2 separate regions of the Homo sapiens genome follow, and region 1 is linked to region 2. The links come from fine-mapping of genetic effects on gene expression. A gene starts in region 2. The other region holds a variant in brackets. All regions are shown on one strand. Distances are from middle to middle. Region 1 has its middle 72 kb from the start of MPP7-DT. Region 2 holds the start of MPP7 (MAGUK p55 scaffold protein 7).

Region 1 (15,353 bases), 73 kb before region 2:
TATATAATCAATATAAAAAGATATTTTATATATTTTTTAATGCTAAGACTTTGAAATCCACTAAGTGTTTTGTACTTACAGCACATCTCAATTGAGACTGGCCACTTTCCAAATGCGTAGTAGCCACCTGTGGCTAGTGGCTACTGTACTGGATAGCACAGGTCTAACATCTGTCTCTGATTCCCACAGAATGACCCTCTAACTGCACAAAGCTCCTTTCTGGCAGTCGCACAGATGGACTCAAGATGGAAAAGCTCTTCATGCCTTACAGCTAATCCTGTTTTACGGAAGAGCTGCAGATGAAACAATGTTGACTATAAGGGTGAAGTAATTTTCTACAGTTTGACTCATATTCCCATGTCCCACACCCCTTCTCTGGAAACTCTAACGTCAATGCTGTGAGACTAGAACTGGATTTGTTTGTTTTTCGAATTCTGTAAGTCTTAGAGGAATATGGTACCACTCAATAGTGTTAGAGTGTATTGTTGTTTACTTAAGAATCTTTCTAGACGGGCGGCGGCTCATGCCTATAATCCCAGCACTTTGGGAAGCTGAGGCAGGCAGATCACGTGAGGTCAGGAGTTCGAGACCAGCCTGGCCAACATGGTAAAACCCGTCTCTACTAAAAATACAAAAAAGTAGCTGGGTGTGATGGTGCGCACCTCTAATCCCAGCTACTCGGGAAGCTGAGGCGGGAGAACTGCTTGAACCCGGGAAGCGGAGGTTGCAGTGAGCGGAGATAGCGCCACTGCACTCCAGCCTGGGTAACAGAGCGAGACTCCGTATGAAAAAAAAAAAGAATCTTTCTAGATCTCGGAGGCTGAATTATACTGCCAGGACCAAGAAAAATGGCCTCCACGTTCCCTTTCTTCTAGTTTACCGTTGTCTCCTCTGGGAGATTACCCCTAAGAGAGAAAGGAGGAGAAAAAAGGTCCTGTGTTGGATCCTTTCTTTCCCATGCATATTGATGGCGTACCAGCAGGTGGCAGTGTAACACCTTGCATGATACATTTCAGGCCCATGTTTTTTGCTGAGAAAAGCAGTGGTCAACGTTTGGTCTTTGCTTGGAGTTTATGAGACAATTATAGGATTGTGGTGAAGACAGCGCAGTTAAGGCTGAGGTGGGTATTGCAATATAAATCTCTGTCTTCACTTTTAACATATTTCAAACTGTTTTTTGGATTGCTTTTTCACATTTAGTTTTTCAGCTCAAAAGAATCATAGAATTAAAAAAGACATGAAATAATGTACATTTCCAGTTATTATTAAATGTTCCTTACTTTTCTCCTCTTTCTTCCATGCCATTAGCTCTCTGACAAGCATAACTTATGTAGTTGAGTGTTACTGAGGAACACTTGGTTTGCAAAATATGAAACTTTTGTTGAGCAACATTTATGACAGGCAAGGTTTAGAATTTCATGCTATAAGCCTATGGCTTCTTCATTTTCCATAATTAAATAACTTCTGAGAATGTGACTTCTCAGAAGGATGCATGAGAATTAAAACCAGCAGCTCTCAAAGATCAGATATCCACAGTTAAGAAAAACCCTTGAAATAAACACTTACATGGGTCAGTTTTTCCTTCTGACAAACATTGGCTTATTTCAACCTAATAGAATAATTAGATAATATCTAGCTTATTATAGGATTGTAATAGATTATTATTTTTGGCAAAACGACATCAGATAATATACACATGCTTCTTTAAGAGTTTTTAAAATAAAAAAATTGTAGAAATTAGTAAGTAAAAACTAGGCGCTTTCAATACAAATGTCAAAAAATGAAGGATTCTGATTTGTATTTGTTAGAGTCACTCATTAACGTCTCATGTATTTAATACATTAAATATTTGCTGGGTGTTTATTCTGGGATGAGCATGAGGGGACGTTGGTCTTTTTCCTGTCTCTGGACTGGGCTTTACACCATCGATTCCCCTTGTTCTCAGGCGTTCAGACTCAGTTTGGAAATACACAAGAGCTTTCTTGGGTCTTCAGTTTACAAACGGCTGACTTCTTAGCCTCTATAAGATCATGAGCCAATTCCTCATAATAAATCTCCTTCTTTCTGTCTCTGCCTATATCTATCTACGATTGGCTCTATTTCTCTGGAGAACCCTAATACAACCAGACACAAAAGGACAAATATTGTATGATTCTACTTATATGAGGTACTTAAGAGTAGGCAAATTCATAGAAACAAAAAGTAGACTAAAGGCTAGGCATGGTGGCTCATGCCTGTAATCCCAGCACTTTGGGAGGCTGAGTTGGGCAGATTGCTTGGGCTAATGAGTCTGAGACCAGCCTGGACAACATAGTGAAACACCATCTCTATGAAAAATACAAAAATGAGCTGGATGTGTTGGTGTGCGCCTGTAGTCCCAGCTACTTGGGAGGTTGAGGTGGGAGGATCACTCGAGCCCGGGAGGCAGAGGTTGCAGTGAGCTGAGATCACGCCACTGCACTTCAACCTGCGGGACAGAGGAGACCCTGTCTAAAAAAAAAAAAAAAAAAACCAGCAGATTAAAGGTTATAGCGGCTGTGGGGAGAGGAAATGGAGAGCTATTGTTTAATGTGTACAGAGTTTCTGTTTGGGATGATGAAAGAGTTCTGGAAATGAATATGGTGAAGGTTGGTTGTGTAACACTGTGAAGGTACTTAATGCCACTGAGTTATATACTTCAAAATGATTAATTTTTCTTTTTTTCTTTTCCTTTTTTTTTGAGAAAGGATCTCACTCTGCCCAGGCTAGAGTGCAGTGGCGTGATCATAGCTCACTGCAGCCTCAGACTCCTGGGCTCAAGCCATCCTCCCATGTCAGGCTCCTGAGTAGCTAGGACTACAGGTACCACCACCATGCCAGCTAATTTTGTTTTTACTTTAATTTTTATGTATAATAGACACAGGGTCTCGCTATGTTGCCCCGGCTAGTCTCAAACTCCTGGCCTCAAGTAATCTTCCCTCCTTGGCCTCCCAAAGCCCTGGGGATTATAGGTGTGAACCACCGAGCTCTGCCCTAAAAATTATTTAAATAGTAAATTATATATTATGTATATTTTACCACAATAAAAGAACATTTTTTTAGGCTAGGCACACTGACTCATGCCCAGCACTTTGGGAGGCCAAGGCGTGAGGATCAGTTGAGCCTAGGAGTTCAAGACCAGCCTGGGCAACATGGTGAGACCCCATCTCTACAAAAAAAAAAAATTAGCTGGGTCTGGTGGCATATGCCACTGTGCTCCCAGCTACTTGGGAGGCTGAGGTGGGAGGATGGCTTGAGCCTGGGAATTTGGAGCTGCAGTGAACCATGATCACAGTACCACACTCCAGCCTGGGAGACAGAGTGAGACCCTGTCTCAATAAAAAGGGGGTTTAAAAAAAAGGCAGAAAAGTTATAAGTGTTCATAGGAGAGTTCTGAGCAAAAGGAACGACATAATCCAAGGCTCAAGGGGCAGGAAAGATTGAGGAGGATATATTTTGGGAGAAACTTTAATCTCAGAAAAGCTCCCAGTTACCCTGACATGCAATTTTGGCAATGCAGGCTGGCAGGGTGATGGGGCAGATCTGGAAGAGAGGTTCTGAGGCAGCAGAGCCAGGGCTCAGCGCGGACACTTAAGTAGCTCAAGTCCTGCGATCTCTAGGACCCAGTGTCCTTGGGCATGGGTCAGGTCGTTCAGTGAGGTCCAATTCAATGAGCAGAGTCCTATGCTTCGGAAATTGAGTTGTTAGTCTAATACAGAAGTCAAGAGGGCTGGGAAGGATCCAGCTTGAACCTGGCTAGACTTGTGCAGAACACCAAGCCATCATTTCTGCCAGAAAAACGTGAAGAAAAATAGAACACAAAGAGCAGAACGAACCCACAAACTAGGCAGATTGCTCGTCTGGAAGAGGGTTGGCAATGCTCTGGAAGGAAGGCTCCCTCCTGACTTCCTCCTGGCTCCCTGGCTCCCAGCACTGACTGACAGGGAAGGCTACTGGGCAGGGCCATGCTCAGGAGCACAGGAGATCTGACCAGGCCAGTGGACTTGGGTCCCTGAGAAGCATAAGCCAATCCAAAACACTCCAGAAGTTGGGTGCAGGCTGCTGATGTACCTCTGTCAGGGCTACCTCGCCACCTGAGGAGCTGCATGGAACTAGAAGAGACCAAGGCAAAAGAAACGAAATGAAACTGATAGGATCATGGGAAACATACAGGGAAAAAATGGGAGAAAAGGTTGCAGGGAAGGTTAGGGCCAGCTTGCGGACAAATTCAATGCCAGGCTAAAGAGCCTGAGTAGAATTCCATGACTAACAGGAAGGTAGAAATCTCTTGAATAGAGAAGTGATATAAAGAAAACATTGCCTTTAAAAGATTCATCCAGACTGTGTGCGGTGGCTCACACCTATAATTCTAGCACTTTGCGAGGCTGAGGCAGGCAGATCACCTGAGGTCAGGAGTTCAAGACCAGTCTGGCCAACATGGCAAAACTCGGCCTCTACTAAAAATACAAAAATTAGCTGGGTGCAGTGGCGCTGCCTGTAGTCCCAGCTACTTGGGAGGCTGAGGCAGGAGAATTGCTTGAACCCAGGAGGCGGAGGTTGCAGTGATCCGAGATCATGCCACTGCACTCCAGCCTGGGTGACAGAGTAAGACTGTCTCAGAGAGAAAAAAAAAAAAAAAAGATTAATCCAGCATGTAGGATGGTTATAAATATAAGAGTCTATAAGTAGGTGGGAGAAAATAATAGCCAGAACTAGAATGGTGAAGTTGAATGCAAGATTCAGATGTATAAGTTATTTTTTTGTTGGAGAGAGGGAAGTATGCCACAATTGTATTTCCATGTTTCAATTGATTGCAGTCACTTAAAAATAAAATGTATTAATTTATTTTTCATTATAACTATTATACCCATAATAGGAAATTTGGAAAAATAAAAAAAAATAGAGGATAAAAAATAAAATTGTTCTCAGTCCTTTTTGCACCAGTATAGCCACTATTGATATCTTGGTATATTTCGTTCTTGTCTTTTTTCTTTACCTAATTATTTACATTGTGTTTTGCTTGTGTGTTTTACTAGTTGTGATTATGTTATGTATACAATTTTATATCAGTTTTTTTATTTAACATGGCCTTATTACGTAATAAGAATTAAGAATACAGACGTCGGCTGGCCATGGTGGCTCACGCCTGTAATCTCATCAGTTTGGGAGGCCAAGGTGGGCGGATCACGAGGTCAGGAGATCGAGACCAACCTGGCTAACACGGTGAAAACCAATCTCTACTAAAAATACAAAAAATTAGCCAGGCATGATGGTGGGCACCTGTAGTGCCTGCTACTCGGGAGGCTGAGGCAGGAGAATGGTGTGAACCCAGTAGGTGGAGGTTGCAGTGAGCTGAGATTGTGCCACTGCACTCCAGCCTGGGCGACAGAGCAAGACTTCATCTCAAAAAAAATAATAAATAAATAAATAAAATAAAAAATAAAAGAATACAGACATCTATTAAGAATACATGGCAGAACCAGACTGCCTGGGTTCAAATGCCAACATCTGCCATTAACTAGCTGGGTGACAACCTCTCTATGCCTCAGTTTACTTAGCCATAAAATGGTAGTAATAATAGTAGCAGTCTCATAGAGTTGTGGTGAGAATTAAATGTATTACTATATGGAAAGCCTTTGGCATCTGGCATATAGTAATTATATGTGTTGGGCATTTTACTAAGTTATTGTAAACGTGTGTTGGAATGGTTTGAAGATTTTCACTCAACATAGAAAGTAGGGAAATTTACAAAGAGTGGTGGTGCCCTTAACATTTACAGGAAAGAAGGAAGGATGGTTTGGAAGGTGGCAGGAATAGATGTGGGTTTAATTGTATCAAATTGAAGTTACAGGCAAAGAGAACAGGTGGAAGTATCTAAGAGGGCTTGAGATACAATACAGAGATTCAAAAGAGAGAAGTTATAACCAGACATCTGGATTTAGGGAACATCTGTCTACAGGTGACAGTTCATATCATAAGAAAAAAAATGAGATCACAAAAGTGTTGAGTTCAAAACTTTGGAGAACACCCGCATGCAAAGACTGAAAGACGGAAGTGGAACTAGGAGAGATGGAAGAAGAGGTAAAAAATCAGAAGAGGAAATGAGAAAGATAGGGAGGGTGTGATGGAGTTTGTTCATGGAAGCCAATTGATGTGGCTGAATCTCACAGTGTAACACCTTTGAACCCCTGGAGTCCTAAATGGGCAGTGGGCAGGAGCCTCTCCTCTGACCTCTTCCCCTTTTCCAGGGCAGAGCCTGGAAGGGGAGCATTAGAACACAGAATCACCCAGCCTTACGCCTTTCTCTCCTCTTCTCACAGTTCCCCACCCACTGCCCCCTTCTCCTGCTTCCTGGCTTGGTCCCCTGGAGCTCTGCTAAACCTTACATTGCTTAGGGCTTTCTCGCACAATAGACCTTTGTGAGCTGATTCCATAGAGCCTAGCGGATTAAATGCAGGGATGGAGGTGGGCAAGAGTAGGGGCTACAGGGGATGACCCATGACTCTCTTTAGAAATTGTTGCCATTCCTTTGATGACAACCATCTTTTCTTCTTTTTGAGACAGGATCTCACTCTGTTGCTCAGGCTGTAGTGCAGTGGCACAATCACGACTCACTGTAGCCTCTACCTCCTGGCCTTAAGCGATCCTCCCATCTCAGCCTCCCAGATAGCTGGGACTACAGGCACACATGACCACGCCCAGCTAATTTTTGTAGTTTTTGTAGAGACAGGGCTTTACCATGTTGCCCCAGGCTGGTCTTGAACTCTTGGGTTCAAGTGATCTGCCCGCTTGGCTCCTCAAAGTGCTGGGATTACAGGCATGAGCCACCATGCCCGGCCTGCTTTGGTGACAATAATCTTAATCTCCTTCCAGGTTTACAGATCCCTCAGGACAACTAAAGCAAGGGTTCATGTACTAAGCAGGGCAAAAACGTGGCATATTAATTTTTACGACAGTGCCTCGTAAAAGAAGGGTATATAATTGGAGGTACAAAGTAGGGTAAAGGCACAGGAAAAGAGGCTTGGAAAAGAGGAATGACAACTTCTAAATATAGGGAAGACTGAACATACCTCAACATTTTGAAGCAGAGGAGGTCAGTTGGAGGAGTGGCTGTGAGATGACTCAGCGGGAGTGTGGACAGACTTGAAGTGGTAAAGTGCAGGAACCCTGGAGACAGGCATTTGGGCTTGAAATTCCAGTTCAGCCACTTTCTATCTGTGATGCCTTAAGAAATGTCCTTAATTTCTGTATCTCAGTTTCTGTGTATGTTAAAAAAAAAAAAGTGACATTGACATAATAATATCTACCTCATGGGCTTGTTATAGGGATTAAATGCATTACTATATCTACATGTGAACTATATTTGCTCTAGATAATTAGGTAAAGGTGTGATAGGTGACCTTGGCAAAATGCAGGGGGTGGAGGCAGAAGAAACTCCATCCAGCAATTGTTGACAGCATTTCAGGCAGCCAGAAATTTAGCGCTAAGGAGACTCAGTGCCTGCTTTATTTTTCTCCGGTTGCCTTATCACCAACTGATTATGATTTTTTTTTTTAACGTTTTTTTGTGTGTGGGGGGGAGAGAGAAACACATGTATTTTAAAAGTCTTCACTGTTCTGAGAATCTTTTTGAATGAGAATGAGATAGTTCCTTTTATCTTCTAGAATCCAAATAAATTCTTCGAAAATTCTTTCTGATATTATTGCACATCTAGATGGGTTACTTCCCACCACTTTACCCCCTCTCTCTCTCTTCACTGGAAACTATAATTTCAGTAGTTGATTGAAAAGTTGATCAGCAAAGCCACATAAATGAAGAAGGACTTTTGAAATAGCCTCCAAATATTTTTCTGGCTAGGCACTAAGGAACACAGTTGACAGCTGTGTAGTATTTTCTGCTACAGGAATAACATTCCAACATCAAGTTAAAACTAATGCAACAAAAATATTCAATACTAAGAGAAAGTCACATGGCGGATTGCACCTTTAAAAAAAAAAAGTGTTTTTAGGCCGGGCGCGTTGGCTCATGCCTGTAATCCCAGCATTTTAGGAGGCCAAGGCAGGCAGATTACTGGAGGTCAGAAGTTCGAGACCAGCCTGGCAAATATGGTGAAACCCTGTCTCTACCAAACAAACAAAAAACTAGCCAGGCCCAGCTACTTGGGAGGCTGAGGCAGGAGAATTGCCTGAACCTGGGAGGGGGAGGTTGCAGTAGCTGAGATAGTGCCACTGTACTCCAGCCTGGGTGACAGGGACTCCGTTAAAAAAAAAAAAAAAAAATTTCAAGTAGCATTTAGCTGAGTTCCAGAATAAAATTTCTCCTGTGTGCAGACAGAACTTGTGTAGTTGTAAGGTCTCAGAAGGGTAAGTGCACCTGAATGGTGAAATGCTAACCATTTGGAAATATATTGATTATGAATTTATGTATTATGCATTATATTATATATTTATATATTTTATGTATAATACTTGTACCTATATATTTATATCATAATTATAATTATCAGCCTTCCACAACTAAAATGTAAGTTATCAGAGAACAAGGATTTTGCTCTGTTTTATTCACAATTAACACAATAGTTTAAAAAGTAAATGACTAA[T/G]AGAATACATTAACTTGTAAGGAAACTTGTTTATAATTGAGCCTGAGTTCCACAAGATGCCAGGGTAGCTTTGGAGGGGCGGATGGGATGGGGTGGCGGTGCAGGAAGGGCTGTGGGGTGAGGTGGGGTCTGTGCTGGGCAAAGAGAGGGTGGATGGAGAAAGGGAGGAAGCCAAGGGTAGGAGTTCAAGCTACAGAGATGGAAACTGTGTTCTCATTGGAATGTTCATGGGAGGATTTAGTGGGACCCAGGTCAGGGAAATACATTCCTGTTTTGTTTTTTTTTTTCCAGTTTTGTATCTCTTCTGCTGTTAATTTTTTGAAAATGTGCATTTGTCTATTTTAAAATATAAATTGTCCATAATGGTCTCTTATTTGTCTAATCTATTCCAATGATTTTGATTTTTTTCTTACAATTTTTCTTCTTTCATTTATGTTTTTCTCAGTGACAATTTCATAAATTAGACTATGTCGATGGAGGAGTTTTCTTATTCAAATAACTCCATTCGAATGTATTTGTTTATTTAAATGATGGCCTGGTTTGTAATTTTTCATTCATAAATTCTTTCTTCTGATATCTTCAAGATTTTATTCTTTCCTTTTCTTCTTTTCTAGAGTCCTGATGTGAGTGTTTGATAATTTAACAGACAAAATAACTGTGTGGCTCCTGAAATTGGCCTTTTTTGGGGGTCTCTTCAGAGGCTTCAGGGAGAGGCAGGGGACCCAGGGAGAGGTAGGGGACCCAGGGAGAGGCAGGGGACCCAGGGAAGAGCAGGTGCTGCTAATTTCCATCTCTTTTGCCTGGATTTTAAAATGGCTCACAATGCCAAATCCTAAACTATATTCTTTCAAACATCAACCACCTTGGAATTGCCCCCTTTTGGAATTTTAAAATACGAGCTTGCTTTGTTTTCTCTGCCACCTTGCCATGACCTCACCCAAATGCTGTCTCCAGATTTCCCACCTAGGTTTTACAGGCAGAATATATATATATATACATACATATATATATACATATGTATATATATGTGTGTATATATATGTGTGTATATATATATATTTCTTTTTTTTTTTTTTTGAGACAGAGTCTCACTCTGTGGTCTAGGCTGGAGTGCAGTGGTGCAATCTCAGCTCACTGCAACCTCTGCTTCCCGGGTTCAAGCAATCCTCCTGCCTCAGCCTCCCAAGTAGTTGGGACTACAGGCGTGCGCCACCATGCCCGGCTAATTTTTGTAATTTTAGTAGAGATGGGGTCTCGCTATGTTGCCCAGGCTGGTCTCAAACTCCTGGACTCAAGCCATCTGCTGGCTTTGGCTTCCCAAAGTGCTGAGATTACAGGCGTGAGCCACTGGGCCCAGCCTGCAGGCAGAATACTTTATAGTGATAGAAAGTAGCGACCCTGAAGTTACATAATTCCAGGTTCACATCCCAGTTCTGCTACTTCCTCGCTGCATGACCTTTCTCTGGTTATTTAGCCCAAGCCTCAGTCTCCTCACCTGTCAGATGAGGGTCATGATAGCACCTGCTTCAAATAGCACTTCCGAGCATGAAAAGAGATGGTGTATGTCAAAGACCTATCACAAAAGGAATATTTGCTAGTTTGTTAAGCTTTTCTAGGGGCTTTTACATACAGGGTTGTTTCTTGTTTTGTTTTTTGTTTACGACAGGGTCTTGCTCTATTGCCCAGGCTGGAGTATGGTGGCACGATCACAGCTCACTGCAGCCTCAAACTTCTGAGCTCCGGTGATCCTCCTGCCTCAGCCTTACAAGTGGCTAGGGCTACGGATGTGCACCAGCACACATGGTGAATTTAAAAAAAGGTTTAAGAGGCAGAGTCTCACATTGTTGCCCAGACTGGTCTCAAATTCCTGGCCTCAAGGGATCTTCCCGATTCAGCCCCTCAAGTAGTTGAGATTTCAGGCGTGTGCCACTGTGCCCAGCTCTACTTCAGGTTTTTAAGTGTCATCTCACTGCCCAAGGGATTAGCTATTATTCTCAGTTCATCGTGAGGAAAGACACAAAGATACTAAATGCAATTTCTGCAATTAACGACTAATTAGTGACTAGAATTTGAGATTCCTTATTCCCAGACGCGTTGCTCTTTCTAAGGCGGCAAGTTAGCTCTTGGCCAAAACTGAAAATTAATTATTTTTTTTGCCCGTAGTGCCCAAACACCCCTCCTTACATTCTCTAATTCTTTCCCTGGGTCTTTTTCGTCTCTCTCAAGTCTTAACAGATAACACTTAACATGTTCTCCCTCCCAGAAGCATTTGGGTTATTTTTTTAATTTTTAAAAATTTCAACTGTTGTTTTAGATTTGGGGGTACATGTGCAGGTTTGTTATCTGGGTATATTGTGTGATGCTGAGGTTTGGGGTACAGTTGATCCCATCACCCATGTAGTGAGCATAGCACCCAATAGTTTTTCAACCCTTGCCCTCCTCATTTCTCCTCTCTCTAGTAGTCCCCAGCATCTATTGTTGCCATCTTTATGTCCCCATATACCCAATGTTTAGCTCCCACTTACAAGTGAGAACATGTGGTATTTGGTTTTCTGTTCCTGTATCAATTCACTTAGGATAATGGCCTCCAGCTGTATGCATGTTGTACAAAGGACATGATCTCATTCTTTTTTATGGCTGCATAGTATTCCATGGTGTATATGCACCACATTTTCTTTATCCAGTCCACCACTGATGGGCACCGTTTGATTCCATATCTTTGCTACCATGAATGGTGCTCCCAACAGCATTTGTCTTTTATCAGTGAATTCTTTAAAAATCAGAAAGCCTTCAAGAGGTGAAGAATGAACATCTAAAACAATTCTTAAGGCCAGGAACAGTGTCAAACAAGGGGCCTTCTCAGGGAGTGTACTTTTTTATTATATCTTGTGGTCAGAAGAATAATGCCCCCGAAAGATGTCCACATCCTAATTCCCAGACGCTGCCTTGTCACCGAATGTGACAAAGGGACTTTTTAGATGTAGGATCTTCAAATGGCGAGCTTATCCTGGATTTTCCTGGATTATTCAGGCAGACTCGGTGTCATCTCAAGGGTTCTTATAAGAGGGAGGCAGAGGGTCTGAGTCAGAGGAGGCAACCTGATGATGAAAGCAGGGGTGAGTGTGTGTGTGTGTGTGTGTGTGTGTGTGTGTGTGTGTGTGTGACAGAGAGGGAGAGAGAACCCTTTGACGGTGCTGCATTGCTGACTTTGAAACTGGAGGAAGGGTCAAGGAGTCCAGGAATCCAGGCAGCTCCTAGAAGTCAGAAAAGGCAGGTACATGAATTGTCCCACTGAGCTTCCAGAAGCAATGCAACTCCTGACACCTTGAATTTGGGAGTTCTGACATCCAAAAGCATAAGATAATAAATTTGTGTTGTTTTAAGTCACTAAGTTTGCATTAATTTTTAACAGCAGCAAAGGGAATCCAATACACATCTTACAGTCCATCTGTGGCCAAACAGATTCAACTTTTCCACCATTCAACTATTTGCAACACCTACCAAATGGTTCAAAGCAGCATGGTGCTGCACACCTCTTGCAAAATGAACTATATGATGAGAATTAACTAAGAGTTCAAACTTGAAACCATTGGCTTGGGGAATGATTCGATCAATACTAGGGGAGATATAACAGTATGGAAAAGATGCTGTTGATTCTGGCCAATGCATATTGCTGTGCAGTTTGGGCCCAGCTGAGAGTGCCTGACTGTGGGGGCAAATGACAGGTGAAGTCCAGGCCAAGCACCATCTGCCAAGTAGTGCACCTGGTCATGCAGCGGCCTTTGCCTGGAGGAAGGAACACCATTTTCTAATTTGCCCAAAGGCACCAGATGGACTAGCAACAGTCCCAGAAGACTTAGCATGGTTCTGCCAAGGACTGAGGGTGTGAATTCAGGTTTGCTACCACTTATCATTTTGGATAGAAGCTACAATTAATTAGGTAATTCACTTCTTTGGCATTCAATTTCATTGCTTAAAAGGGAGACTTCAGGTGAAATGAACTCATTGTTACTAACTCCACTCCAGCCCTGCATGCCTTCTTGCTGTTCCTCAAGCACATACCTCCTACCCCAGGGCCTTTGCACTCACTGTTTCCACTACCCACCACCTGGCTTGCTTGCTTCCTTCCTTCATTCCTTCCTTCCTTCCCTCCTTCCCTCTTTCCTTTCTCTTTCTCTCTTTCTCCCTTCCTTCCATCCTCTCTTTCTCCCTCCCTCTCTCTTTCTCTTTCTTTCTTTGGGCCTTGGTTTGTTGCCCAGAAGGGAGTGCAGTGCTGTGGTCATAGTTCACTCCAGCCTCAAACTCCTTGGCTCAAGTGATCCTCCCACCTCAGCCTCCTGAGTAGCTGGGACTACAGGTGTGCACCACCATGTCTGGCTAATTTTTTTTTTTTTTTTTTTTTTGAGATGGAGTCTCACTCTGTCACCCAGGTTGGAGTGCAGTGGCACAATCTCGGCTCACTACAACTTCCGCCTCCCAGGTACAAGTAATGTTCCTGCCTCAGCCTCCCGAGTAGCTGGGACTACAGATGCGCACCACCACATCTGGCTAAATTTTGTATTTTTAGTAGAGACCTACTGACCTCGTGATCCACCTGCCTCAGCCTCCCAAAGTACTGGGATTACAGGTGTGAGCCACCGCGCCCAGCCCCTGTCTGGCTAATTTTTATTTTATTTTTTTAGAGATGGAGTCTTGCTATGTCGCCCAGGCTGGTCTCAAACTCCTGGCCTTACGTGATCCTCCCACTTTGGCCTCCCAAAGTGTTGGGATTACAGGCATGAGGGACTGGGCCCAGCCCTAATAAATATTTCTTGAAGGCATAGACTTTTCTTCTTATGTTAAAACTGACTTCCACAATAGGATGCTTCGGCGTTTCATGTTTTGTGTATGTGAGTGTAATTTTGCTCCCTGGTGGGGTGTAAATTTACTTTCTGAGGCATGGGGGTGAAGGTGACAGTGACTAGTATATTGCTTCAGGATGTGTTCTGGCCCCTTCTTATGGTGTCACCATCTTCTAGGATGTGGCCAGAGCACGGTGAGGTATGTAACAAAATGAAACCTTTTGCTTAAAATCAAATTGGCCAGCAGGGCGCGGTGGCTCACGCCTGTAATCCCAGCACTTTGGGAGGCCAAGGCAGGTGGATCACAAGGTCAGGAGATCGAGACCATCCTGGCCAACATGGTGAAACCGTCTCTACTAAAAATACAAAAAAATCAGCTGGGTGCGGTGGTGCACACCTGTAGTCCCAGTTACTCAGGAGGCTGAGGCAGGAGAATGGCTTGAACCCAGGAGGTGGAGGTTGCAGTGAGCTGAGATTGTGCCACTGCACTCCAGCCTGGTGACAGAGTGAGACTCCGTCTCAAAAAAAAAAAAAAAAAAAAATCGGTCAAAGTACAATATTTGCTTCCTACTCTGCTCATCTTCACCTGAAAAATCTACAGATTCTTCAGATTGCAAACCCATGCTTACCAAAGATAAATGCTTGCACTTTGCATGAATTTGAAAATGTATCTCTTATTTTTCATTCAAGACTCCAAGTTGGCCAGACAGGATGACTCATGCCTGTAATCCCAGCACTTTGGGAGGCCAAGGCAGGTGGATCACATGAGGTCAGGAGTTCAAGACCAGTCTGGCTAACATGGTGAAACCTCGTCTCTACCAAAAATACAAAAATTAGCTGGGTGTGGTGGTGCGTACCTGTAATCCCAGCTACTCAGGAGGCTGAGGCAGGAGAATTGCTTGAATCCAGGAGGCAGAGGTTGCAGTGAGCTGAGATTGTGCCACTGCACTCCAGCCTGGGCTAACGAGCGAGACTCCGTCTCAAAAAATAAAAATAAATAAAAATACAAAATAAAAATAAAGACTCCAACTCAATATTTGGGGAAAAAAAGCCACTTTTATCCCTGTCTTTGACCCCTTAATCATTTTTCCTTTGCTGGACCTAGTCCTGTCTCTCTGAACTCTCTGCTGCAATTTCCTGACACTGTGGCCCAGGTCTGGGGAGCTCTTTGGGTGGGGCTGAATGCCGAAGCTCACTCACCACTTCCCTTCTTTTCAAAAGAAGCGAAAGTCTTTCTAGTTCCTTCGGTTTGGGTACTTTCTTTAAGTATGTGCCTGAGTAGACAAGTCATCGTATTTCCTGATTCTGCTCACTGAAAGTAGTTTCTACTTGTGTGCAGGAATAGCTTCTAGCTCTGATGCTTAATTCTTTTGACTTAAATATCCCCATATGGTGGGAGGTCTAGAGAGGAATTTATACCACTGAGACTCTCACTATATATATTTTTTCTGTCAGTTACTCTTGTAAGCTGTGAGTCTTTAATGATTACCATATGCACAGGCCCATATGGTCTGAGCCTCCACTCAGCACGTGTTCCTTGATCATAATGTCACAGAGCAGTGTGGCTTTTCCTGTGAGCATTCTGTGCAACATAGCATGGTGACAGATACCTTATCCGGAGTCGCCATTTTATTTTTTCAACGTTTTCAGTGCGTCTTTGGAAACACTAGCCAGCCACTTGTAGACACGTCAAGTACAGATTCATATTTGAAATATCCTGGGTAAATATTTAAAGTATTTCTGTGCCAAGCAAAGTGGCTCATGCCAGTACTTTGGGAGGCTGAGGCGGGAGGATCAGTTGAGGCCACGAGTTTGAGACCAGTCTCGGCAACATAGTGAGACCCTGTCTCTACAAAAGTAAAAAAATTAGCCGGGCATGGTGCTGCACCTGTAGT
Region 2 (15,353 bases):
GTTTATGAGCTTGTAACAAGGGGGAGTGCTCCAAGGAACCCACAGAGGGTCTCACCAAGGGAAAAAGTAGCCTTCTTGTAGGAACTGGGAGAAGGAATTGGAAGGAAACAGTGTTGTGATAGACTGAAAGCAGAGCAAGGCTGTGAGTAGCATTTTTTTTTTTTTTTGAGATGGAGTCTCACTCTGTTGCCCAGGCTGGAGTAGAGTGGTGGGATCTTGGCTCACTGCAACCTCCACATCTCGGGTTCAAGCAATTCTCCTGCCTCAGCCTCCTGAGTAGCTGGGACTACAGGCACCTGCCACCACGCTCAGCTAATTTTTGTATTTTTAGTAGAGATGGGGTTTCACGATGTTGGCCGGGCTGGTCTTGAACTCCTGACCTCAGGTGATGTGAGTAGTATCTTCTTAACATTTAGTAATATTTTTATTAACATGAGTTCTGGTGTGACAGATTCAGAGTTCTGTTTCCTTGGAGACCATAAAGTTAAATGTGGAATGCTGGGTCCCCACATCTCTGAACTGAAGGCTGGAAATAAAGACTGCTTCCTTGGGTCAAGTGATCCTCAGGCTTGAATCATCCAGGCAAGAGTGGGTGTTCCATTCTCATTGATCATCAAATAGCAGTTTCTGACTAGTTTTAGAGTTTTCCAATTTTCTTAGTCCGTGTCCTTGGTGTTAATTAACAAGAGCAGTTTTTACAGATTCACATCAATATAGAAAAATGTAAAAAGAAAGTTTTGACTGAAGCAGGAAGAGACAATAGATGTGAAATTCTTTTTTGTTGTTGTTGTCTTTTTTTTTTTGAGACAGGGTCTCACTCTGTTGCCCAGGCTGGAGTGCAATGGCGTGATCATAGCTCACTGCAGCCTCAACCTCCTGGGCTTAAACAATCCTCCTGCCTCAGCCTCCTGAATAGCTGAGACTACAGGTGTGCACTACCACACCAAGATAATTAATAGGTGTGACATTCCAAAATAAGTTGTCAGAGCAAGAAGCAAATCTTAAAAGGAAATATCCTAGCCCCTTGGTGACTCTTAAAAGTGCCTCACCCAAAATAGGATCATAAAAGGGCAGAGGAAGTGGAGTTCAGGAAAGAATCTATGAAGATGTTTTCTCTGAAGAAAGCAATTCTGTTACTCCTGCTTCTTTGAGACCTTTCTCCTTAAACTCACTAGAGAGGCAGTGTCAGTGAGGCAGACCATGAAGGCAACTTGATTTGTGTCCCCTGGTATTTGGAGACAAATCTCAAGTGGAGAGGCTGAAGATACTGGCTTGAGGCAGCAGTGGGGCAGTGGTGGAGAGAGAGAACACTGAAGACCAGTCTGCACACAGCCAGCTGCACTTTTACCAACCATGGGCGTAAAGTATGGATGAATGTCTGAAGGACCAGATAACAGCTGTTTGTTAAGAGACAGCTGGGCTGAAGGAGTTTAAATCCTGCCTACAAGGATCACCTGGAGCAGCCTAGCGACCATTTCCCTTCTTCCCCTGCAACAGGAGACTATAAAGTGACTGGCAGGGAATGAGAAAGCGAGGGGAAGTGTTAGAGAAAATTGCATTGCTCAGGTCAAGAGAAGTGGAGTTGGATGTTTCAAGTACAGGTCTCTAAGAACCCAAGAAAAGACCCAAGAAGGAAGCGCACATTTTAGTCATTGTCCAGGCTTGGAGAGCAACCCCTGCTAGCAATGCACCAGTTAAGCATGAACTTGCTAGTCCTGGACTCTTCCCCCTTCTTTTTGCAACCTGAATTTGAAGGGGATTCTAGGGGGATAGAGAGAAGGATCCTTTCCCCCTTTTTGGAGTTCCATAGCTTGGCTGCATGGGACCCTTTCTGGGGAAGCAGAGGGAAAGTTTAACTGTGAATGAAGCTTGAAAGTGTTGATCAATGGCATTTACATTAAAATTAAAGCTGTATATTGTGATTTAAACTGACCAAATGATTTTTATTACCTGTGAGCAATCAGAAAAATTTCGGGATCACCCAAGTTTTCATCCAGGGGTGGGGACAGATGTCCTCATACGGAATGCCTGTGGAAGGGATGGTGGCAGATCGAGGTTTGCCATCTGCTTCCCTTCACGCCTCTGTCCTGCTTGTTCTGCAAGCTGGTCTCATCTGAGCCCAGAGCAGCAGGCTAGTTCACTGACACTCATAGATTTGGCAGGAGCATTTGCTCTTTGAATACATTGATGTCAGGAGGTACACTTCAGATAGGGAAACAGGAAATTACTAGAAGACCTGAACAAGAATGGCAACTTGAAACTGGAACACACAAGGGTACTGGGTGTCTGGAAGCCAACTGAAGTAGAAAGATTTCCAGAGAATGTGGGAAATTACCATCCAAGCCTTCGGCCTTGGCCTCTAGGTCTCCAGTTTACTATAAACAGCAGGTGAAGACTTTCAGTAACTAGAAAGGAAGCCTCATTGACTGGCGATTGAAAATGTCAGGGGTGCAATGAATGCGTGTCTGGTAATCTGCCCAGTGTGTCTTCTCTGGGAAACCTCTGCTCATAAACAGGGATGGGCCCTGGCAGCCATACTGGTCCCCTGCAGCCCCCATCATCTATGATTAGGGTTAGGGTTAGGCAGGTGATTTAGTCCTTGTGGGTGCAGCTCTGGAACATCATTTCTCTGACACTGGGACATAGGAGCCAGGGGCTGGTTATCAGAATAGGAGAATAGAGCACAGGTGTAGAGAGAGCACCTGCTATGGAAAAAAATTCCATTGAGTTCCTCCTGGCTTTTCAGGTCTGCGATCTGGGTCTTCCTGAGGACTAACTTATTTTTGCCTTTGGGTTCTATTATACATCTATCTAATCTATCAATCAACGATCTATTATCTATCTATCAACTATCTATTATCTATCATCTATCTATCAACTATCTATTATCTATCATCTCTCTCTCTCTCTCTATCTATCTATCATCTATTTTAGAGACAGGGTCTTACTCTGTTGCCCAGGCTGGAACGCAGTGGCAAAATCTCTGTTCACTGCAGCCTAGAACTCCTGGCCTCAAGCAATCCTCCCACCTCAGCCTCCCGAGTAGCTAGGACTACAGCTGCACACCACCAAACCTGGCTAATTTTTAAATTTTTTGTAAAGATGTCTTGCTATGTTGCTCAGGCTGGTGTTGATTTCCTGGCCTCAAGTAATCTTTCCACCTTGGCCTCCAAAGTTGTTGAGATTATGGGCATGGGCTACTGTATGCAGCCTCTTCTGTCTATCTAATGAATTTCTGTCCTCTATTAGGGTGAAGAGATAGCTTTTCAGTGGCTTTGAAGCATTGTGCCAAATATTTCAAAGATCACATTTTAAAATCTACTTTTTGATTTATTTAGTTGCTGCAAATTTTGACTTATCTGTCACTAATCAGCTGGATGTACTGAGATACTTTGACATTTCCTAATGTCTGGTGCTTTCTCTTTCTGGCCCTCCATAGTGAGGGCTGGATCTCTTCCCTTATAGGTATCTGCTAATGCTGGAGGCTCAACTGATAAAGTAAAGATAGCCATCCCAAGAAGCAGGCGGAAAGGCTGGGGCTAATAGAACAGATCTCTACTCCAGGGGCTTCAATTCTGCCCTAGTTCTGGTCAAATAGGATTAATACTGCTCACCGTTACTATCCTAAAAGGGCTGTCATGGTTGAAAGTGGGCATTTACTATTTTCAGTGTCTTTTGTTGCTGGAATAAAGGAGATGATAATATGAAACAAAAATCAGGTTGCTTCTCCTCATATTTTGCTCAGCTCCCAAGCATTCAGAATGTCGTTACTAATTAGACATTTGTTTCAACATTCTGGGGCCATCCAGGCTAGGCAATCTTGTGATGTGGGGAAAGTTGACTGGTTATGCAATGGCTTTGCATTAGATCCCCTGCTCCCTTGCAGGCGCTGAATGCTCTTCTGTTGTTCTCTGGATCTAGAACCCTGTCCCTTTTCTCTGGGATGGCTCCTACTGATGTTTCAGCTTATTCCTCATTTGCTGCAGGACAGTCTCCTTGGCCCCATAGTACTCTTGATTTCCCCATCACCTGTGCAGTAATAGTTTCTCTATAGATCCACCAGTCTTGTCTTATTCATTGTTATATCCACAGATCTAACCTATTTCTAGTAAACAGTAGGTTCTTCCTAGATCCATTCCTGATGATTGGCTTAATGAATGAATGCTCATTTTACTGGTGACTCTGAAAAAGGAAAAAAAAAAATAATGATTTTACTCCACTATCAGCAACTCGATGTTGCCCGTCAGGAATCCTTGTAACAAAATACAAAGTTACCATTGCCTACGAGGTCCTCACCTCCTTCTCCAACCTGTCTAGTAGCACTCTCCTTATGCACCATGATACCCATGCTGGCTTTCTCTCTGTTCCTGCTATACATCACTTTTCTTCCTACTTCAAGTCCTTTGTTCTTGCTATTTTATCTGCCCTGGAGTTTTGCTAAGTTGGTGTTTTCTTATTTAGGTGGTGCCTCAAATCTTAGAGCATTTCTCTTAGATCATTTCTCCTTAAAGCATTTTTCTCCTTTCCCAAAATTAAGTGTGTCTCCCATCCCTCTGGTCACTGTTTTCTTCTTTGCCCTGATCCCGGTCTGGAAGTTTATCTTTTTATTGGATCATTGTCCATCTTCTGATAAAAACAGCTGCAAGTCTGTCTTGTTCAAGGCTATACTCTGAGTGCTTAGTAGAAAGCCTCGTTCATTGCAGTATCTAGTATTTGATGATTAATATTGATTACGTTTGATGAGTAAATGAATAAAAGAATAATCTTAGACATACATTATTTAATCCCAGTGAAAGAATGTTAGTGATGGAATTTCAGGTGTTATTGTAGAAGAAACTTTTGAAGGGTATTCCCTACAGTTTGTTCATACTAGGCTAAGTTCCTCTTCTTTTCCTTACACAATGTAAAAATATTAGATCTCAAAACTATTTGCTCAAAGTACTTACTTTAGGACACGTATTTTTAGACTACAGTTTAGAATTACAGTTATTATTAGAAAGGTTTGGTAAAAACTCTTTTTGTTAGGCAATAAGGTTATTCTGTCCTCCAAAGACCTTTACTTTATTCTCAGGAAGTAAGAGAGAAAAAAGAATTTCTTGTCTTCTTTCTATCAGGTGTTTTGCCCTTACTTCTCTTTAAGTTTATGTTTACCTTAACATTCCTTTCCTTCCTCAGGTTTGCTTTTTGTCTATCTCCATTTTTCACTATTACGTAATTCACGGAGTTGCTGGGGGGAAGTGCTTAATTTCAAATAGCCTGTTTTAGAACTTTGCGAGAATGACAAGAACAAACAGAATGTTAAGGCAGCTAGAGAGAGTTAAGTGAGAGTGGTCCCTAGGTGAGAAATGCTTCTTGCCTTCTAGGCTGACACCAGTTCTGGGGGATGTGTTCTGAGAGCTCATATTAACTGCAGGTCATTGATCCTTATCTCAATCCCCTTCCTCTCCCTTCAGCTTTCCATTCAAAGTCTCTATCACATCTTGAAGTGTTGTCACATTATTTTTTTTCTGATGATTCCCTCCATCAGCTGAGCTTTCCAATTTATATTACCTGATTTTTTTTTGTCTTCTGCTTTTTACTACCCCTTTTTCTAAAGCTTTATTGATTGTGTACTTTGGATTCTAATTCTTCCTATAAGAGTCTTCCTGTAATTCTGTTTGCAGTGTAGTGCTGTCCACATTATGTGTTGGTTACATGATAGGAAGGAGTATGGGGGCACCTCGGTCACATATGTAAAGTTCTTTAAGAGAGCTGAAGGGCGCTGATACCAGTTCATGTTTTTTCGGGGTAGCCCTCAGATATTAAGCATGTTTACTGTATTTTCTTCTATTGTGAAAGAATCAGTTCTCTGGATTTCCTTAAAGTTTGTCTTTACCATTCTCCGCACCCTACTCATTTTTCTATTTAAGAATTTTTTTTTCTAATCATGTAGTACATGTTCAATATGGAACACAAAAAGGTAATAAGAAAAAGTCACCTACAGTGTCGCCAAAGGTGAAAACACCTTATGTCTTTTTTCGTGCATAACAATATCCCTCTCAATCTTATGCAGCATTTTTAAACCTAGGAGACTTGTCTGAATCCAAAGGAAGTTAAAGATTACGTTATTCACCAAGTTCATACTGAAATCAGAGAATCGCAGCGGCTTAAGAAAACTCGCATCTGGCGAATGAACCTGCGTATCCGGGGTTCTCCTCAGGGAGGTTGCTCGTCCATGAAACACACTCCAGTCTGCAGCCACCTGGGAGTGGGAACCAAGGGCGAGCGAACCGGGCGGGCAGGGGTGGAACTTGCGGGGACTGCGGGTATGAGGAGGAGCTACAGAGCTGTCACCAATCAGAGCCCAGCTTTGTTTTCTCTTGCCGACCAATGAGGGAGTTCTGCTGGAGAGGCGTCTTCAAGTCTGAGACGCCTATCGCCTTCGCAGCCTATCAGCAGGCCCCTCTTACCCGCGGGCGGTGCAGCCCCGCCCCGCCCCTCCAACCGCGGTCCCGCCCCTCCGAGGGTGGGGGCCGTGTTGGTTACTAGCCGGGCTGGAGGCGGGGGCCGGGCTCCCACTGGGCTCGTGCGTTCTGCGCCCGCCGCGGCGGTGCCGAGCCCGCTGGCTCCCGATTGTCCTCTGCGGCGGTGGCGGTCGCTGCCTCCTTGCCTCCGGGCCCGGGGCTGCAGGGGCCAGAGCGAGTGCGCCTCCTGCCCGCGGACCGCGGCAGCCCAGAGCAGGTAATGGGGCGCCTCTGGGGAGCGCCTGTCGGAGCCCAGGGCTAGGCTCGGGCGGTGGGGTCGGCCCCCGAAGCTGCTCCCTGCGCCGGCGACCGGGCCGAGCGGTGCCGCGGTCCTCCGGAGCCTCCTGCCGGCCTCTAGGCGCCTCAGCCTGGGAGCCCGCGGCGGGCACCTTGTGAGGAGGTGGGGGCGGGGCCGGGGCAGGGGCGGGGCCGCCTCGGGCGGGACCCTGAGGACCCCTGGAGACCCCTGTTGACGCGCGGGACTCCGGGCGGGGGCGGCGGCGGGGCAGACCCAGAGCGGGGAGAACCGACAGGTGGAGGAAAAACTGCGGAGTTGAGTCAGAGTCCGGCTCCCCGGGGAAAAGAACCGACTGAAAGGGAGCGATAAGCTGGCTGGCTTCTTTTTTTTCTTTCCCTAAGCCAGAAAGGCGTCTTCACTTGGGTCGTGTTAATTACATGTTTTCTGAGAACAGGCGTTTGGCCGTGTAATCTACACGATAGCATTATTTATTTACTTATTTGCTATTTAAAAAATTAAAAGCAGCATTTAGCGTGAATCTATTTGGGGGCTTTTTCTTAAGTGACAGGTAGACCCAGCCGAGTAACTCAGCTTTGTCTGGGCTGAAGTGGGGAGCGGTGAGGTAGGAATGAGGGGGAGGAGTGTTCGTGAGGAATGCCTGTGCAGGTTTGAAAGGATTGTGGGGGTGGGACCTTGTTTCTGTCACTGTGCCATGGGTGGGAGTAGAATTGTGATTTTTTTCTTTTTCTAATTTTTAAAAGCAATATTCACATTTAAAAAAGGGGGGGCTCTCTAAAAACAGTCTCTGTACTCGAGGCTTTGGGGATGCACCTGCTAGTCAGGCAGTAATAGTTTGCAGGTAAATCCTGGGCTATTAATTACGTAATTTGATTTACTTATAAAGAAGTATCTTGAATTGTTGCTGCCTTTCCTTTGACTTGCTCAATATATTGCTTGTTTACAAGTGAATTGATGAAGGTCACTGAGTTTTAGCGGTAATGTCACAGCGATGGCCCTTGGAGAGTTTTCTATGCTCAGGTTCACTCTGGTTCTATAAAAACAGTATTTCCATTTAATCGTGAAGCTCATAGCACTCTATCAATTATATAGTATGCCATCCTCCTACTCTTCTGAGGCAGGCTGTGCATAGCATGTCCATTTTACAGGTATGTCAACTGAAAGCCCTAGAAATGAAAGGAATCCTGCCCCACTTTACTCCTACTTTATTTTATACCTATAATGGATTTAATCCAAAATCTGGGTAAGATTCCCGCCATCAAGCCAACTTCTGCATACCAATTTGATCCCGTATACACAGGTCAGAGGTGGAGATGGTTATTTTCAAGTAAAGAAATATTATCTGCGAGGTTTTTCTTTCCATTCAGGTTGCTTAGCTAGTTTGAATTTCAGGTGAAAGGTAATTTTCCACACAGGCAAAACAAACAAAAGTTAGGAATGCTGTGTGAAAATCTCTATTTTAAATTTTGGGAAGCTTTCCAAATTAGAGAACCTTATTTGTGTTTGCATCTCTAGCTCAGCATTGAATTTCGGTACCTTTTTTTGAATTGAATAGAAATAATTGATATGCAGAAGGAAAATACTAATGAAGTGTAATGCATTTTGATCATGACTTATGACTTTGTTTCGGGAAGTGTTTACTGTAAATTTATAGACGGATTGAAGAATAATTTCTTAATTAGAATAACTTGACCAAAGGAGTTTGGGCATTAGTGTGGGACAGGCTGAAATGGGTAGTTGGGAGTAGCCGCTTGTATGATGTTAAGGCTTAGGGAATTCTAGAGAATCGTTAGGTTTTGTTAAATTTACTAGTTATCAGGAACATGAAAATGTCTTATGGATTACTGAATGGAACTCTTTTTTTTTTTTTTTCTGAGGTGGAGTCTCACTCTGTTGTCCAGGCTGGAGTGCTGTGGCTCACTGTGATCTCTGCCTCCCTGGTTCAAGTGATTCTCCTGCCTCAGCCTCTTGAGTAGCTGGGACTACAGGCGCATGCCACCACGCCCAGCTATTTTTTTTTTTTTAATATTTTTGTAGAGATGGGGTTTCACTATGTTGGCCAGGCTGGTCTCGAACTCCTGACCTCAAGTGATCTGCCTGCCTTGGCCTCCCAAAGTGCTGGGATTACAGGCGTGAGCCATTGCACCCAGCCTGAATGTAACTGTTCTAATCATGAAGTTATCTCTTGTTTTGTGGCTAATACCTCTGTTTCACATGTACATTTTAACATATTCATGTAACATATAAGGCAACTCTTCTTACACAAGGCTGTCACTCTAGCCCAGCATTTATTTACTTATTTATGTTTTAGTGGCTTTATTTAACTTTTACTCTCCTGTCAAAATTTCTAGCACCCAAGCAAAAATTTCCATAAAGGAACTTTTATCATCTGTTGATTATACAGAAAATGAATCATTTATTCTCATAAGCCCAGCCCTCTTGCATTGTGGGACACTGGAAAGATATTTTGGCTGTTTGTAAAGTATTTGCTTGTATTCTTACCTGAAGCTTTGACTTCTCCCCCTCCCCCAATGGTTTTCAGAGTTTCTGTGACTTTTTTCTTTAAATTAATTATGACACTACCTGACTTCCACTAGATGGTGCACTGGGGGGCGCTTACTGGAGATTTCAAACAGATTTTTGTTTTTCCTTGTTATAAACATTTCACTGACAAAGATACAAAGGTACTGCAGCTGTTTCTCTCCTAATTGCAATTCAGACAAAATTGTAATGAATGACTTAAGTCTTGAGTTTTGGCCAGGCATGGTGGCTCACGCCTGTAATCCCAGCACTTTGGGAGGCCGAGGCGGGCGGATCACAAGGTCAGGAGATTGAGACCATCCTGGCTAACACGGTGAAACCCTGTCTCTACTAAAAAATAGAAAAAATTAGCCGGGCGTGGTGGTGGGCGCCTGTAATCCCAGCTACTCGGGAGGCTGAGGCAGGAGAATTGGCCTGAACCCAAGAGGCAGAGCTTGCAGTAAGCTGAGATCGTGCCACTGCACTCCAGCCTGGGCCACAGAGCGAGACTCCGTCTCAAAAAAAAAAAAAAAAAGTCTTGAATTTTGTTAAATGAGATACATTCGGAAGGAAAGGGTATTCCTTCATTTTGAATTTAAAGTGAAGGAAATTGTTAGTCAGGCTTGCTCTCTGAAGATACTGTGTTTTTTACAAACTGAAGGTTCGTTGGCAACCCTGCAAGTCGATTGGTGCTATTTTTCCAATAGTGTATGTTCATTTTGTGTGTCTCTGTCATATTTTGGTAATTCTCACAATATTGCAAACTTTTCATTGTTATTCTGTCTGTTATGGTGATCTCTGGTCAGTGATCTTTGATGTTACGATTCTAATTGTTTTGGGGCTCCATGAACTGCACCTATATAATATGGTGAACTTAACTGATAAATGTTACATATGTTCTGATATCTCCACCAACTGGCCATTCCCCAACTCTCTTCCTCTCCCCAGGCCTCCCTATTCCCTGAGACACAACAATATTGAAATTAGGCCAATTAATAACTCTACATTGGCATCTAAGTATTCAAGTGAATGGAGAGTCGCGTGTCTCCCACTTTAAATCAAAAAGCTACAAATGAGTGAGCTTAGTGAGGAGGTCATGACAAAAGCTGAAACAGGCCAAAAGCTAGGCCTCTTGCACCAAACAAGCGAGCTCTGAATGCAAAGGAAAGGTTCTTGAAAGAAACTAAAAGTGCTACTCTGCTGAACGTCCAAATGATAAGAAAGTGAAACAGCCTTATTGCTAATATAGAGAAGGTTTTAGTGGTCTGGATAGAAGATCAGACCAGCCACAACATTCCCTTAAGCCAGCAGAGCAAAACCCTCTCTTCAATTCGATGAAGGCTGAGAGAGGTAAGGAAGTTACAGAAGAAAAGTTGGAAGCTAGAAGAGGTTGGTTCATGAGGTTTAAGGAAAGAAGCTGCTTCCCTAATGTAAAAGTGCAAGGTGAAGCAGCAAATGCTGATATAGAAGCTGTAGCATGTTATCCAGAATATCTAGCTAAGATCACTGATGAAGGTGGCTACACTGAACAACAGATTTTCAGTGTAGATGAAACAGCCTTATATTGGAAGAAGATGCCGTCTCGGACTTTCTTAGCTAGAAGGAAGTCAGTGCTTCACCTCAAAGGCCAGGCTGACTCTTTTGTTTGGAGCTAGTGCAGCTGGTGACTTTAAGTTGAAGCCACTGCTCATCTACCATTCCAAAAATTGTTAAGCGTCATGCAAAATCTACTCTGCCTGTGCTCTATAAATGGAGCGACAAAGCCTGGATGACAGTACATCTGTTTATGGCGTGGTTTACTGAATCTGTTAAGCTCACTGTCGAGACCCACTGCTCAGAAGAAAGGGTACCATTGAACAAGTGCTGCTCATTGACAATGCACCTGGTCACCCAAGAGCTCTGATGGAGATGTACAAGGAAATTAATGTTTTCATACCTGCTAACACAACATCCACTCTGTACCCATGGATCTAGGAGTCATTTCAACTTTCAAGAGTTATTATTTAAGAAGCACATCTTGTAAAGCTATAGCTGCCATAGATAGTGATTGTTCTGATGGATCTTGGCTAAGTAAATTGAAAACCTGGAAAGGATTCACAATTCTAGATGCCATTAAGGGCATTTGTGATTCAAAGGAGGAGGTCAAAATGTCACCATTAACAGGAATTTAGAAGAAGTTGATTCCAGCTCTCATGGATGACTTTGAGGGGTTCAAGACTTCAGTGGAAGAAGTACCTGCAGATGTGGTGGAAATAGTATACTGAGAACTAGAATTAGAAGTAGACCCTGAAAATATGACTGAATTGCTGCAATCTTATTATCAAACTCGAATGGATGAAGAGTTGCTTCTTCTGAATGAGCAAAGAAAGTGGCTTCTTGAGAGAGAGTCTATTCTTGGTGAAGATGCTGTGAGCATTGTTGAAATGACAATGAACGATTTACAATATTCTGTAAACTTGGTTAATAAAGCAGTGGCAGGGTATGATAGGATTGACTTCAATTGTGAATGAGGTTCTACTGTGGGTGAAATGCTACCAAAAGAGAGATCTTTTCTGAAAGGCAGAGTGAGTTGATGTGGCAAACTTCATTTTTTTTATTTTTTTGAGACGGAGTCTCGCTCTGTTGCCCAGGCTGGAGTGCAATGGCACGATCTTGGCTCACTGCAACCTCCGCCTCCCAGGTTTAAGAGATTCTCCTGTCTCAGCCTCCTGAGTAGCTGGGATTACAGGTGCACACTGCCACAGCTGGCTAATTTTTTATATTTTAGTAGAGATGGGGTTTCACTCTGTTGACCAGGCTGGTCTTGAACTCCTGAGCTCACGCAGTCCACCCACCTCAGCCTCCCAAAGTGTTAGGATTACAGGCGTGAGCCACAGCGCCCGGCCTTATTGTTTTCTTATTTTAAGAAATTGCCACAGCCATCCATCTTTCAGCAGCCAGCACCTTGTTCAGTCAGCAGCCATCAACATCAAGGCAAAATCCTCCACCAGCAAAAAGATTATGACTCCCTGAAGGCTCGGATGATCACTAGCATTTTAAAAAAATTATAAAGCATTTTAAAATTAAGAGCTAATGCTATTGCCAACATAATAGACTACAGTATACTGTAAATATAACTTCTATATGCACTTGGAAAGCAGAAACATTTCTGTTACCTTATTGCAGTGTTAGTTTTACTAAGGTGGTCTGGAATGGAACATGTGATATCTTCAAGGTATGCCTACGATTTCAGAAATAACCTCTCCTATTGAACCCTCTGATTCTTCCTGTGTTCAGAAACCCAGACCAAAGTGTAGATTTATTGGTCTTTATTTATGAGTAGTTGAATTTTTTTAATGTCTTGTGTTTTGTTTAAATTTTATGTAAACTGCGGCTTAGCTCTTTCAGCATAGTCTTATGCTTTGCTTTCTTAGATTACTGAGTCTTTAAAAGAACTGGTAAAGTGCATATGTGTGGAAAGATTATTTGCTACCTACTATGAACAGATACTTAAGTAAAAAAACAAAAACAAAAAAACCCAAGATGTTTTTTCCAGGCATATAAATGTTTTTTTCTTGAAGAGGCATTTAGTCTTTCTATTTACTAGAACATTATCAGCTTGCTTTACTTATGAAAGAGAGGAGACCATTCTTTTCTCTGTGAATTTAGGAGCTATTTGTCAGGCTTGTTTATTACTGATTGGGTTGCTTGTTACTGATTGTTAGAGAAGGGAGATGAAAATACATAGCAGTTGCGATATCCATTTTGGGTATAGAACTGGCAATGTTAGTGGAGATTAAAGACTAGCTGGTACGACTGCATTTTGCAAGATATTTTGAAGACAACTTTGGACTTTGAAAATGCAGGATAGGAATCTAAGTGAGAAAGTCTTTCAGTGGTTGGGGTGTGTGTGTGTTCACTTCAGTTGCACTGAACTGTGGGTGGGGAGGAGAGCAATAGTAAATTGTTTCTTACCAGAACACTGCCAGTTCTTAGGGGATTTGGTGGAGATTTGGGAGAGAGAAAATAAATAGGATTCAGCCCTTCTAGGAAGGTCATTCTTGGCAGTGCCTTCAGCCCTTAGGAGAGCGTGGGCATGGAAAAGGTGGGTGGTTGTAAGTAGCCAGGCAGATTAAAAGGCTGCTTCCTAGAGTTTTCTTTACCTTTGATGACCTTAATCAGGTCATTAAGCATTTTAAGACAGGTTTATAGCTCTCCTGTGGTCCAAGCTTGGACTAAGTACTCCTTAATCTTCAATTTTATGTTTTAAATTTTTGGAATAAGTAGAAACCTGAAATTTATAAAATTAATGACTTGAGTATGCGAGTGAATAGCTTCAGAGAGTTATTTGGCTTATGGAAGATTTCAGATTATGGTAGGTGCTTGAATATACTTATTTCTCATACTCTTTCTTCCATCCCTTTAACAACAAAAAAAGGCCTTATTAGAAATAGGCAAACTTGAATACACATAGAGCTGTACTGCTCAAATTGAGTACTTGAGTTGGGGAGAAAAGTCTCCCGGTCTAGATATAGCTTTGAAAAGAGAAGGATCAGGTAGGATGCCGTACACGGCAGGTGTGTGCAGGGACAGGGATAACGTTAACCCCTTTTGCTGTGAATATTGTCAGAGGGTCTGATGTGTAATTAGGCATTCCTTAGCTTCACTCCTGATAAAAACACACTCTTGGACAGTTTCTCTGTATGTGCACTTAAAGCAGTTTGAATCTTGTTAATCAAATATTTCTCGGGGTTGTAACTTCTTTTTTTGGCATTGGGAAGACTGTTGAAGTCATGTTGTAAAAATTTGGAGTTGAGCCTGGGATCAAAATTTGGAGTTATGGCCCAAGATTTATCAAGCTTCTGCTGATATTCAAAATATTGTTTTTTTCTCTTCCTATTATGGCTTCTGATTACTTCTGAAGAGTGAGTTCAGACCTCTGTGCTCTAACGCTCATCAGAGTACCCTTTTTGTACATAGTATAATCAGGATAGAGATTAGGCATTTTGTCAAGTTTGGGAGAAAGAAGTTGAGCAGTGAGGAAATGAACTAACACTGTTTTCGTTTCTTCATAGTCATTTTAAATAGGATACAAATTTTATATTTTAGAAGTTTCAAAATGGTAGTAATTTCACCTTTCACATTATGCTTAGTATGAAAAATTTCTACCAGTGGTTCTCAAACTTTAGCATACCTTGGGATCACACGGAGGGCTTGTGAAACCTTAGGCAGCTGCCTTCCAGCCCCAGAATTTCTGATCAGTCGGTCTGGGAGGGGAGGTCCTGGCGATTTGCATTTCTAATAAGTTCTAAGGCCATGTGCTACAGCCACTGCAGGGGCCAGCCACTCTAGGGGGAAACGTAAGTGTAGTGGTTAACACTTTGAAAGACCTGGGTTTGAATCTCTGCTCTGCTGCTTTCTAGTACTTTGACTTTAGGCAAGTTTCTTAACCTCTGTTGTTCCGTCTCTAAAGTGGAAATAATATAGTATTTTGTTGTGAATGTAAGTGGGCTCCAATGTGTAGAAGCTCAGGGAACAGGGCCTTGCAGATTGCAAGCATGCAATAAATGTTTTCTTTTATCCATAAAAACAGTACGTATATAAAATAAATAGGATCCTGCATCTTATACAATTGAAGCAAAGACAGAAAATTTAATACTTAACCTCATTTCCTGGCACTGTGCTGGGGAAAAAATATGATTACTCAATTACTTTTTAAGGAGTGAAGGAAAAGTTTGTGGATCCTAGTAATTTTCCAGAAACATTTTTTAGAGGCATAGCACATTCATATCGATGCTGCCTCCTCCCTCTTCCCCTTCAAAAAGTTTGCATTCTTTAATCACCGTATGTTGGACTCTCACAATAACCCTTATAGTTTACATTTTATATAACAGGTATTTTGAAGGTTGCTTCTGGGAGCTGAATGACAGGAAGTACCTGAAAGTCATCTTTAGAACACACTGTCGCCTGTACTATGACAACTTTGTATTTGATGACCTTGAACGCAGTTCTTCTCGAGACGGAGTCTTGCTCTGTCCCCCAGGCTGGAGTGCAGTGGTGTGATCTCAGCTCACTGCAGGTTCCACCTCCCGGCT

What was found. PIP is the estimated chance that this variant, and not a neighbour inherited with it, causes the effect. A credible set is the group of variants that fine-mapping cannot tell apart.
Region 1: its variant is the best candidate, but not a certain one, in a credible set for the expression of MPP7 in left ventricle (GTEx, PIP 0.69).

The regions. Positions count from the first base shown.
Region 1 is chr10:28,367,693-28,383,045 of GRCh38, reverse strand. No RefSeq gene overlaps it. Among named protein-coding and RNA genes, the nearest start is that of MPP7-DT, 72 kb to the right of the region's middle. The variant T/G (reference allele first, on the strand shown) is at 8,618.
Region 2 is chr10:28,294,228-28,309,580 of GRCh38, reverse strand. It overlaps MPP7 (MAGUK p55 scaffold protein 7), which reads left to right and starts at 6,517. Exons shown (of 17, transcript NM_001318170.2): 1 at 6,517-6,720. It overlaps MPP7-DT (MPP7 divergent transcript), which reads right to left and starts at 6,412. Exons shown (of 2, transcript XR_930772.3): 1 at 5,152-6,412; 2 at 3,310-4,182. RefSeq lists a silencer at 6,331-6,970.